Homo sapiens: one gene and its partner. The protein of the gene in region 2 interacts with the protein of the main gene of each other region in a pairwise test. Each region holds a gene or a part of one and is shown on either strand. Other genes may lie near its edges. The genes, in order: PALLD and HOMER2.

Evidence for each region.
Region 1: the proteins of HOMER2 (region 2) and PALLD interact in binary tests that used the Homo sapiens proteins (3 or more experiments, as listed by UniProt).

What each region holds. Positions count from the first base shown.
Region 1 is NC_000004.12:168,891,758-168,899,057, forward strand, and holds part of PALLD (palladin), read left to right. Parts: intron 1-2,728; exon of another isoform or gene 2,729-2,821; coding exon 2,822-2,920; coding exon of another isoform or gene 2,921-3,008; intron 3,009-3,835; exon of another isoform or gene 3,836-3,995; intron 3,996-4,791; coding exon 4,792-4,842; intron 4,843-6,735; coding exon 6,736-6,957; intron 6,958-7,300. UniProt on the Homo sapiens protein: Cytoskeletal protein required for organization of normal actin cytoskeleton. Roles in establishing cell morphology, motility, cell adhesion and cell-extracellular matrix interactions in a variety of cell types.
Region 2 is NC_000015.10:82,848,425-82,851,962, forward strand, and holds the end of HOMER2 (homer protein homolog 2), read right to left. Parts: intron 2,808-3,538; coding exon 2,727-2,807; intron 1,480-2,726; coding exon 1,291-1,479; 3' UTR 559-1,290; downstream 1-558. UniProt on the Homo sapiens protein: Postsynaptic density scaffolding protein. Binds and cross-links cytoplasmic regions of GRM1, GRM5, ITPR1, DNM3, RYR1, RYR2, SHANK1 and SHANK3.

The DNA of each region.
Region 1 (7,300 bases), on a different chromosome or scaffold from region 2:
GGAATGGTTTGTATCTACCCAGAAACAGCGAACTGCAATGAAAGTATCAAAAAGAGAATTTGTTTTCCATGGTATGTACTACTTACACACGCACACAAATCTACTAGAGAAACCATTGGGGAAGTTCTGTTCTTTTCTCCCAGACTACTACTAGATATTAATTCAGCATCTGAAAGAGTAAAGGCTGTTCCAAAATCTTGTTCTGGTTTGTTAGAGCAAGATAACTAAACTGTAGGAAAAAATAATTATTTTACAGCTGCAGAACTGTAGAGTACCTAAATAGATTTGGTAAAATATATAGATAAGATGTTTTCTCCACTGGATTTAAGTCTTTCCTCATCAGTTTTTGTTTGTTTTTTCATCTCTTTTGTTGATGCTATCCTTTTAAAATACTCTTTTCTTTTTAAAATACTATTTCCAGAATATTTTAAGGGGATGGGAAAAGCAAATCTAGAAAATAAGACTTACCAGGTAAAGGAGAGGAACCTTCTGTAGCTTTATTAAGGAATTGTCACTGGAAAAATTTGCCTGGCTCTTAAGTACAAGACAAGGATCTTTTTGTATAAAATCTCCCTTTCAGACACCTTTTTCAGAGTAGAAAGCTCTCTATAATTATGTTTTCTGAGAATTTTAATTATCAAACATTGATAAGTAAAACTGTGAGAACAGACCACACTTGAAAGCTGGAGAGCAGAGGAGGGGTGCTGAATGCTGATTTTAGTTTATTAGGGTATCTTAATCTGATTAAGAAAGATTAAAATTTCAATGAAGTTTTGTGTTAGTTACTCATTTCACTGAGTATAGAAGATTTTCACAAGAGGAAAATATTTTCTCCCTGAAATAAGTGATTGCATGTGTAAATGTACATACTCTGGAAGTTTTCCCTGGCTCTGTCAACTAAATCTTTTAAAAGATTAAAATAAATACATATGGGAACTTTTTCAAGCCAGGTAAGGCATCACTCCAGCTTTTTTTTTTTTCTTTTTGGCTGTCTATGTCAATGTTCCTTATGAACTAAGATTCTCTTGGTTAAGGTAAGACTTCCTTAAGCTATTGGTCAACCCACATTATATATATTGTATGTATATTTATATTCATCTGTTTAGCAGTGAATAACATTCACAGTAAGTTCCACAGGTATCCACACTTGAGAGCTTAAAATGACAAGTAAGGTTTCCCTTTTTAGAAAATGGGATTCTCAACCAACTTTTTCCTAATATTATATATCATTCTCTTTCTTATCTTTGGTGTCTGTAGACACGGGCTTTTATAGCCAGATGGCATAGTGACTTAGAAAAAAAACTGTGAAGTATATTTGGCTTCTAGTGGTAGCAGGTGCATTCTGGTGAAGGAATAGATATGAAATTGATATTTCTGCTTATAAGGAACAGAGTGAAAATCACTCCAGGCCTGCCTTTGATGTGTTACAATTCTCCGTGAAAAGATTAGGGAAGCTTTTTAAGAGATCAGGTATTTAAGACTCTCTTTGAAAATTGAATTCACTGATTTTTTAATAGGTGTGAGAAAATTAATTTAATAACATAGTGGACTCAGATGCTTCATGCCGCCCTCAGACTCCTACCTCTGCCTCTTCTTGTCCTCTGACCTTTCTTTATTAAGTGAAATAATTTGAACTGCAGGACTATTTGTCATTTGGCACTTGACTTGTTTCACTTCCCGGTTTCAGCTGGGATTGAGATCAGCAATTACTGGAAATTGTAAATTTACCCAACATATTTTCCTGATTAGAGAGCTTCCAATCAAATTTGCATTTATATTTAGAAGTTTGGAAGTTTATCTGAAATAATTTCTGTACATTTTTTAGATTCTGCCTTACCAATTATTCTCTATTTCTAATCAAACACTTGCTTATAAAATGCTCCCGATGAGGCAGGTGGTATCTGAAAGTTCCTTCCAAACCTGTAAGTCTAAGGCACTTTAGAATGAGTATTCAAGAGCAGGTATCACCCCAACAGTCACACAAAAATGCCGGCATTTCTTATGTATAAGAATGGCATAGGTAAAACGGTTTGGGCCAATTCCAAAGTGCTAGCTGCGAGATGCAAGAACACTACCACTTTCTTTGCCTGATGGGCAAGCAGTCTGCTTCTGGGTCAAGTCAATTGAGGCTGTTAGCTTTGGCAAGTGTCTTGTGTAATCCTGTTGCTAATTCAGCCATGTGCATCATTCTCTGTGGATTATAATAGTTGCCGCCAATCCCCTACATTACACAGCAGCCTGGGAAATGCTCTTAGAGGTAAGAACCCCATCACTGCCAGCTCATCCACATCTTCCTTTAGCTAAACATTTACTGAGCACATACTGTTAAATGACTGATAGAATTATTTCCATTAGCGATACCTGTTCTTTTTTTAGTCAGTTTATTCTCCTTTTGAGTATCTTTGTTTTTTCTTTCAGTCAGTATTAGAGCTGACTTGGGTGTTCTGAAGCTGATGGATGGCTATAAAAATAACATTTCTTTTAAATTGTATTTTGCTGTTTAAATATCTTTTTTTCCATGTTTTTCATTAAGGACATGACAAATCTTTTCTGTGTGGTTTCTTCCTTGTCGCTTATTGCTCACTTTAAATTTGTGCTGTACCAATTGGTGGCTCTCTGGATTAGGCCATTAGTACTAGAAAGGGAGGTAAAAAGGTAGAACAACTGAAGCAAGAAAAAGAAATATGCAGGTATCTGAAGCTGGAGAGAGAACACTTACAGAAAATCATGAAAGTGTGTTGTTTTTTACTCTTTTTCATAGGGCAGTACATATTTGTGATTTTTTTCTAATTTTGTATTTTTTGTGACTTACGTTGTTTAGAGGTTAACATACGAAGAAAGAATGGCTCGTCGACTGCTAGGTGCTGACAGTGCAACTGTCTTTAATATTCAGGAGCCAGAAGAGGAAACAGCTAATCAGGTACCATGTTGCTCTGGACTTCTTAGGGTAACATTTATTCTGTCCCCCTTTTCCATCTTCCTTATGGATACTGTTCTTGGGATGAGTTCTGTGGAAAGTAGAGGGCAAGTCACAGAAAAGCAGTATTAATATCATCAGTCAACCTCACAGCTAATTTTTATTGAGCACATACTATGTTAAGTGACTGACAGAATTCTTTCCATCAGTGATACCTGTTCTTTTTATTCTTCTTCTTGATTATTCTCCTTTCCAGTACATTTCCATTTTCCTATCCTAAGTTTTATGCAAAATAATTTTGTGTGGAGAAACACATTTTCGCCGACATTGTCTGAAATAACTAGTGAATATTTCCCATTAGAGTTGGACCTTGAACAACACGGGAGTTAGGGGGACCAACCCCAAGCACAGTTAAAAACCCACATATGGCCGGGCACAGTGGCTCATGCCTGTAATTGTAGCACTTTGGGAGGCTGAGGTGGGTGGATCACGAGGTCAGGAGATCGAGACCATCGTGGCCAACATGGTGAAACCCCGTCTCTACTAAAAATACAAAAATTAGCCAGGTGTGGTGACGCACACCTGTAGTCCCAGCTACTCGGGAAGCTGAGGCAGGAGAATTGCTTGAACCCGGGAGGTGGAGGTTGCAGTGAGCTGAGGTTGTACCACTGCACTCCAGCCTGGCAGCAGAGTGAGACTTCGTCTCCAAAACAAAACAAAACTAAAAACACATATACGACTTTTGACTCTTCAAAAACTTAACTAACAGCCTACTGTTGACCAGAAGCCTTACTGATAACAAAGAGTTGATTAACACGTATTCTGTATGTTATATGTATTATAGACTGTAGTCTTAAAGTAAGCTAGAGAAAAGAAAATGTTACAAAGAACATCTTAAGGAATAGAAGATACATTTACAATTCATTAAGTGGAAGTGGGTCATCATAAAGGTCTTCATCCTCATTGTCTTAAATTAGAGTGGTCTGAAGAGAAGAAGACAAGGGGTTGGTCTTGCTTATCTCAGGGGTTGCAGAAGCGGAAGAAAATCCATATATAAGTGGACCCATGCAGTTCAAACCTGTGTTGTTCAAAGATCAACTGTTTAGTCTTAATATCTAGTCAAAATAAAATAGAAAATATTATCTCTTTATCTTCTTTCACATATATACAGATGTTCTTCAACTTAGTATGGGGTTATGTCCTGATAAACTCATTATAAGTTGAAAATATTGTAAGTTGAAAGTGCATTTAAGGCGGGGCGCAGTGGCTTACGCCTGTGATCCCAGCACTTTGGGAGGCCAAGACCGGGTGGATTACCTGAGGTCAGGAGTTCAAGACCAGCCTGACCAACATGGTGAAACCCCGTCTCTACTGAAAATACAAAAATTAGCCGGGTGTGGTGGCGTGCGCCTGTAGTCCCAGCTACGCGGGAGGCTGAGACATGAGAATCGCTTGAACCCAGGAGACAGAGGTTACAGTGAGCCAAGATCGTGCCACTGCACTCCAGCCAGGTGACAGAGCGAGACTCCATCTCAAAAAAAAAAAAAAAAGTGCATTTAATACACCTAACCTACTGAACATCTTAGGTTAGCCTAGTCTATCTTAAATGTGCTCACAACACTTACATTAGCTTACAGTTGGGCAAAATCATCTAACACAAAGCCTATTTAAAATAAAGTATTGAATATCTCATGTGATTTATGGAGTCCTGTACCAAAAGTGAGAAGCAGAATGGTTGTGTGAGTACTCACAGCACCGTTACTACCAAACGCATATTGCTAGCACAAAAGTTTCACTTAAGGAAAATTAGAAATCTTGCTGCATTCTTATTATTTCTATTATTAGTCTTCACATCTTTTTTTCTACCATTACAGGACATTGGTTCTCCTCATGCTTCTGTAGGGAGTCCTCTGGATGGTCAAAAGGTTAAGCTTTTCACCTTTCTTCTCCTTCCAGTCTTTCTCTGTGTCTGTTTTCTTCTGTTCTTCCTGTTTTACGTGTGTTTCTATCTTTTCTGCCATATATTAATTATAAATGCTATGACCAGTGTCTGTTTCATTTAATATCAGATACACAAAATTACTGCAACATGAGTTTTCTTGTCATGTATTTACCAGCTTGAATTTATTTATTTATTTTTACTTTATGTATTTATTTATTTATTTATTTATTTTGAGATGGAGTTTCGCTCTTGTTGCCCAGGCTGGAGTGCAATGGTGTGATCTTGGCTCACTGCAACCTCTGTCTCCTGGGTTCAAGCGATTCTCCTGCCTCAGCCTCCCAAGTAGCTGGGATTACAAGTGCATGCCAACATGCCTGGCTAATTTTGTATTTTTAGCAGAGATGGGGTTTCACCATGTTGGTCAGGCTGGTCTCGAACTTCTGACCTCAGGTGATCCACCCGCCTTGGCTTCCCAAAGCGCTGGGAATACGGCATGAGCCACAGTGCCTGGCCTCTGACTTGAATTTAATTCTGTCATTAGTGGATACTCTGAACATTAAATCAAGAAAAATTTTTCATTTGTTATATATACCTTTCTATGGGGAACAAAAGTGCTAATTCTTCAAGGGATTAATTTGATAGTAATTAGATGAAGCAAAACAACTTGTGGTATAACTCTTGCAGTTTTATTCATACTGTTGTATTTCTTCCCTCAAACCAACAAACTTGTTTTTTAAACACTGAGTAACTTCTTTAAGAGAAAACATAGTTAAAGTTATCTTTCATTTAATATTAAATAGGGAATATTTACATAGACTCCCTTGTCTTCATTGCACTTTTTTGTTTTGGAGACAGGGTCTCACTCTTTTGCCCAGGCTTGAGTGCAGTGGCACAATCACGGCCCACTGCAGCCTCGACTTCCCAGGCTCAAGTGATCCTCCCACCTCAGCCTCCCAAGTAGCTGGGACAACAGGCATGTACCACCATGCCCAGCTACTGTTCTTTTTAAATTTTTTGTAGAGATGGGGTCTCACTTTGTTGCCCAAGCTGGTCTCAAACTCCTGGCCAGAAGCAATCCTCCCACCTCGGCCTTCCAAAGTGTTGGGAATTACAGGCATGAGCCACTGTACCTGGCCTTTAATGCACTTTGTAGGCAAGGAAATTGTAGGATCCACCGTAATCACCACAGGAATGTTGATGGGTTGTTTTTTTTTTTTAAAGCAAAATTTTGGCTAGACTGTCAGTCCTATTTTTTCTTCTAAAGATGGTGGGTTCCTAACAGCTGCAGAGCTGAGGAGGCGGCCCTTGCAAGGCAGGGATTGTTAGAGGTGGGGGAAAAAAAACAAACATTTTTTTTTTTCTATTATTCTTTTACTATTTTTTCTATTACCATTTTTTCTAGTACCATTTTTTCTATTATTCTTTTACTATAATTGTATATAATATGGCAGCTGCTTGCCACATGTACTATGTGGAGAGATGTACCACCCTGCATCAGCTTTTACCCTACAGAAGGAAATCAGCGTTCCATTATATTTTATTGTTATCAACAGTTTAGGAATACATAGCTTTGCTTTTGCCTTTTTCTTTCCTTCCCCTTGTTTCCCCTCGCCTCAGAGAAAAGAAGGAAAAAAAAATTCATCTTTCCTACCCCCCTCTTTTTGGATGATAGGACTTGAAGACAATCTGAAATACCACATAAACTCACTTCCAGATGTTTTTTGTTTCATATGCAATTGAATTGGGCTCAGACTGTGTTTTTAAGCTGTATGGTAAAAATATCACTGTCTTCTAGGGCCTTATTGGGGGGCAGGGAGAGACGTGACACTTTGTCAGAAGGGATTGAGTCTGCTAACTTAAACTTTCCTTGATTCAGGAATACAAAGTCTCCAGCTGTGAACAGAGACTCATCAGTGAAATAGAGTACAGGCTAGAAAGGTCTCCTGTGGATGAATCAGGTGATGAAGTTCAGTATGGAGATGTGCCTGTGGAAAATGGAATGGCACCATTCTTTGAGATGAAGCTGAAACATTACAAGATCTTTGAGGGAATGCCAGTAACTTTCACATGTAGAGTGGCTGGAAATCCAAAGCCAAAGGTGAGCTGGGAGATGGAGGCTTTTTAAGAGTCATTCTCTGAGGAAAGGTTTAGCTTCCAAAACATAGCATGCCAGTAGGAGAAAGAGATACAAATGATCTTTCTCAATACCCACGATATAAAGGGTTTTAAATATTCTTAAGTTCTGGGCCATCTTCAGGAGGCATTAGAAACCAAAAAAGGTGGTGGGGGGAGTGGAGTTTGGGTTTGAAGAATAGAGAATAACTAACAGGGAGCTCTTCACACACCTATATCATTTATTCCTCGTTGTTATTCCCAAATCACAAATAACTAAACTGAGTTCTGTGAAGTGAGTTTCCAAGGTCAGAGAGCTGGTGAGTGGC
Region 2 (3,538 bases):
GGCAATCTCCCAGGGCAGGATGCCAACAGCACCCACAGGCCCGCTGGCCCCACTGAGCAGCTCTGTGAGAGAGGAGAGGTTTATGGCTGCAGTCCCTTCCCTAGGAGAAACTGAAAAAGGCAGGACGCAGAGCTGGGTGGAACACCTCTGTCATGAGGGCCAAGGCTTGTCAGCTGAGCTGCTCTCTCCCCCCGAAATGCCTGTGATTTCTTCCCAGCTGTCCAGACCCATAAGACAATCCTACCCTAGGTACCAAGCCCTGGGCAGCCCCTATACCTGGAATCCCTGGGTCACCATTCCTAGGGGAGAAGGTGATTCGAGGGTCTGGAGAGCCCCAGGGGCAGAGCATCACGGATGGGCTCCAGGGGCCTGAGACCAGCTCCTGCTGCTTCCCCTTCTCCCTCCCTGCCCCAGGGCCACCCGAGCCCCAGCTTGGGTTTGACCAGACAGTGGTATTCATGTCTGTTAACTACCCAGCACAGCAAAGATGGTGCATCATTCGACAGGGTCCCAGCTCTGCTGTGGGGTTTGATTAAAACACTAAATTCTGTGTACACATTTAATTGAACAAATATTTATTAAGCACCTACTTTGTGCCAGACATTGTGCTAGGCACCCTCACTGTGTGCTGTTCCCACAGCACAATCATCTGCTCAGAAATTAAAACCAAGAAAAGGAACACTGTTGCAACCGTACAAACTGGGGGGGCGGGGGGCAGGGGGCAGTAGCGTGGATGCAGGCAACTCCGGGCCAGAAAATGCACCCACCAGAAGCTTGTTTTCCATCTCTCAGAAAGTTTCCACTAAACAGTTGTTTTAAAGCCTCTCGATGTTGACAGAGAGGAATGTTGTTCTCTCTGTGCCCCCCGGGGCTGGTGTCTGGTGGACATTCAAATACTCTGAATGCTATTTGATAAAAGGAGCCTGATGGCTTGGTGTAAAGAATATCAATATTTGGATTACAAAATGCGTGTTTTTTCAGTTCATATGGTTGCAACAGCCCTTATGAAAGATATAAACATCCCTGCCCTGACTGCATAAATGTTGAAGGTAGACCTAGTTCTGGATTCCTGAGTCAGAATCTTCCAGTTGTCCACAACCTCACAAGGCCAGAGAAGCGAGAGGAGATTTCTATTCTGAAAAGGAGTGAGTGGACGGCACAACTGGTTTGGAAACACGACAAACTGCGCCTGCATTTACAGAAGCAATGCACACAGAAGAACGTCCTAGAGCTATCTGGTCTCGCACACACGCTTGGGACTCACGGGCGGGGCCTGGGCCTCGGCCAGCCCTAGTTATCGGTGCCCAGCTTGGAGAGCCCTCGGCGGAAGTCATGCAGGTCGTCAATCTTCCCGTCCAGCACCTCCAGGAAGCTCTTCAACTCCACCTTCAGGTGGCGCTGTCGGTATTTGCTCTCCTCAATGTCTGTCTTTAAGGAACGCACTTTGTCTTCCAGGTTTTGATTGTCTCTCTCTGCCGCCTGGCCAAGCAAAAGGGAGAAGGGTCTAGAAAACTGAGTGACGAGAGTCATCCTTCAAAACCTGCTACAGCTGAACCAACCATTCTCCATCCAATCTGAGGGCCTGGGCCAGGGCTTAAGCTGCCTAGAGACATGCTACCCCAGCACACAAGCCTGTGACCAAGACATCAGAAGGGAAGCAGCAGGCACTTCAGTGACCTCCTCCTTTCCTGCCTGCTCTCCCACAGAGGGACCAACACCCAGCCTGAAAACCCAAGACCCAACAAAGCAGGCAGAACGCAGAGTCCTGCCTGAGGGAGACCTCACACAGGGCCCAGCAGGGAAAGTCTGAAATCCCTGTCTGAGTGGCTAGCAGAGACCACATTTCAGTTCCATCCTGAGAGACAGAACAGATGGGAGAGTGGCTCGTTCCCCTGGTCCCACAGAGAGGCGTGGCCTCCTCAGCCCCAGGCCAGCCTCTGGCCCTCAGAGAGGAAGGACTGGCCATGCCAATGACTCAGGGACAGCCAGTCTGTGCACCCTCTGATGCTGTTACCATGGAGATGTTCTGTGGCGCTGGGCCCCACAAGCCTACAGAGGCACATCTAGGTAAATCACAAGCAGGTTCCCAAAGACAGGACAGCTGTGAGTCCTTAAATGAGCCATAAGCCTTTAACTCTTCATATCAAATAAGAGCTTTATGTTGAGGGAATAAACAGAGACCTTTCTGAACATGTGCACAGGAAGCAGTTACCAATTCCAGGGTCATGTAACTACATGAAGCGCCGTGTGCATATCAGAGGACCTGCAGGGAAGAGGCGCTCCGAGGTGGAGGAAGCCCTGAAAATCCTCATTTTAGTGATCAGAAATCTGAGGATAGGGAGGAAGGCCTGCCCAAGGTCAGTGCCCAAGGCCACTGGCAGGGGAGTGGCTGAAGTGGCCCCACACCCTGACCCTGGGCTCTCAGGCCGCCCCCCCGCTCCTCACCCCCACCAGGGATCTGCAAGGAAACAGTCGTCTACACTGTGGTGATGCACAGGGGCCTTCATAGAACTTGCAAAACCAAAAGACAAACGTTGCTGAGTCTGCCCCGGGGGCAGGGGTGGATGCGGTGCCATCTGGCGTGCAGTCACTGCCAGCTTTTTGTGAATAGAAAATCTCTCCTTCAGCATTCTCAGTGTGAAAGTGATAGGAAGCAGGAAAATGAGTACCATGACATTTGTGCCTTCTTGTCTGAGCCAGGATGGCTGTGCCCCCAACCCACGTACCTCTAGCTTCTCAGAGACATATTCGCACTCTGACATGAGCTGAGGTATGATTTCACTTTGTTTTCGGAGATCTTTCAGCTCCTACATGAAAAAAATTTGAGATAGAACATGAAAGCAAGTCAGATAAAATATATTCTTGAAAATCACCAATGTGTGCACGCTCGTGGAAGCAGCTTTGGGACCCTGTCCTGTTTGCATAGACAGTGATAGTGACCATGCGAATACTTCATCTCAGGGAATTTCAAGGGTGAAGTGTGTCACACGCCTTGTCACGTGAAGTCTGTACACACCACCACAAGGCAGATGTTTTTCCGATTTCTGTTTTATAAGTGGAGAAAGTGAGGCCTAGGGAGTTTGGTAACATGAGCACGGCCTCCAACATGTGTGCACTTAACTGTCTGCCCCCTAGAAAATAAATGACTGTAGGCCAGGCATGGTGGCAGTGAGTGCAGGTGGCTGGCGCCGGGAGCTGGGCTGCGGTGTGGTGGGCACGTGTGTGTGGTGCTCTCATGGCGTGTGTCTATAGTCCCAGCTACACAGGAGGCTGAGGTGGGCGGAATGCTTCAGCCCAGTTCAAGACCAGCCTGGGCAACATAATGAGACTCCATCTTAAATAAAATAAATACATTTTAAATTTTTTTAAAAAAGAAAATAAGTGGTTACATCATGGGTCTCTAGCGGCATTAATTTGGCAGCAAAACTCAACTTCTGAGGACAGATGACAAACGCATCTGAGTGTCTTGTGAAATGTTCAGCTCCCTTGTGGATCTGCACGACCAGCTATAGAACAGGGGTAACAGGGAGGCGGCAGA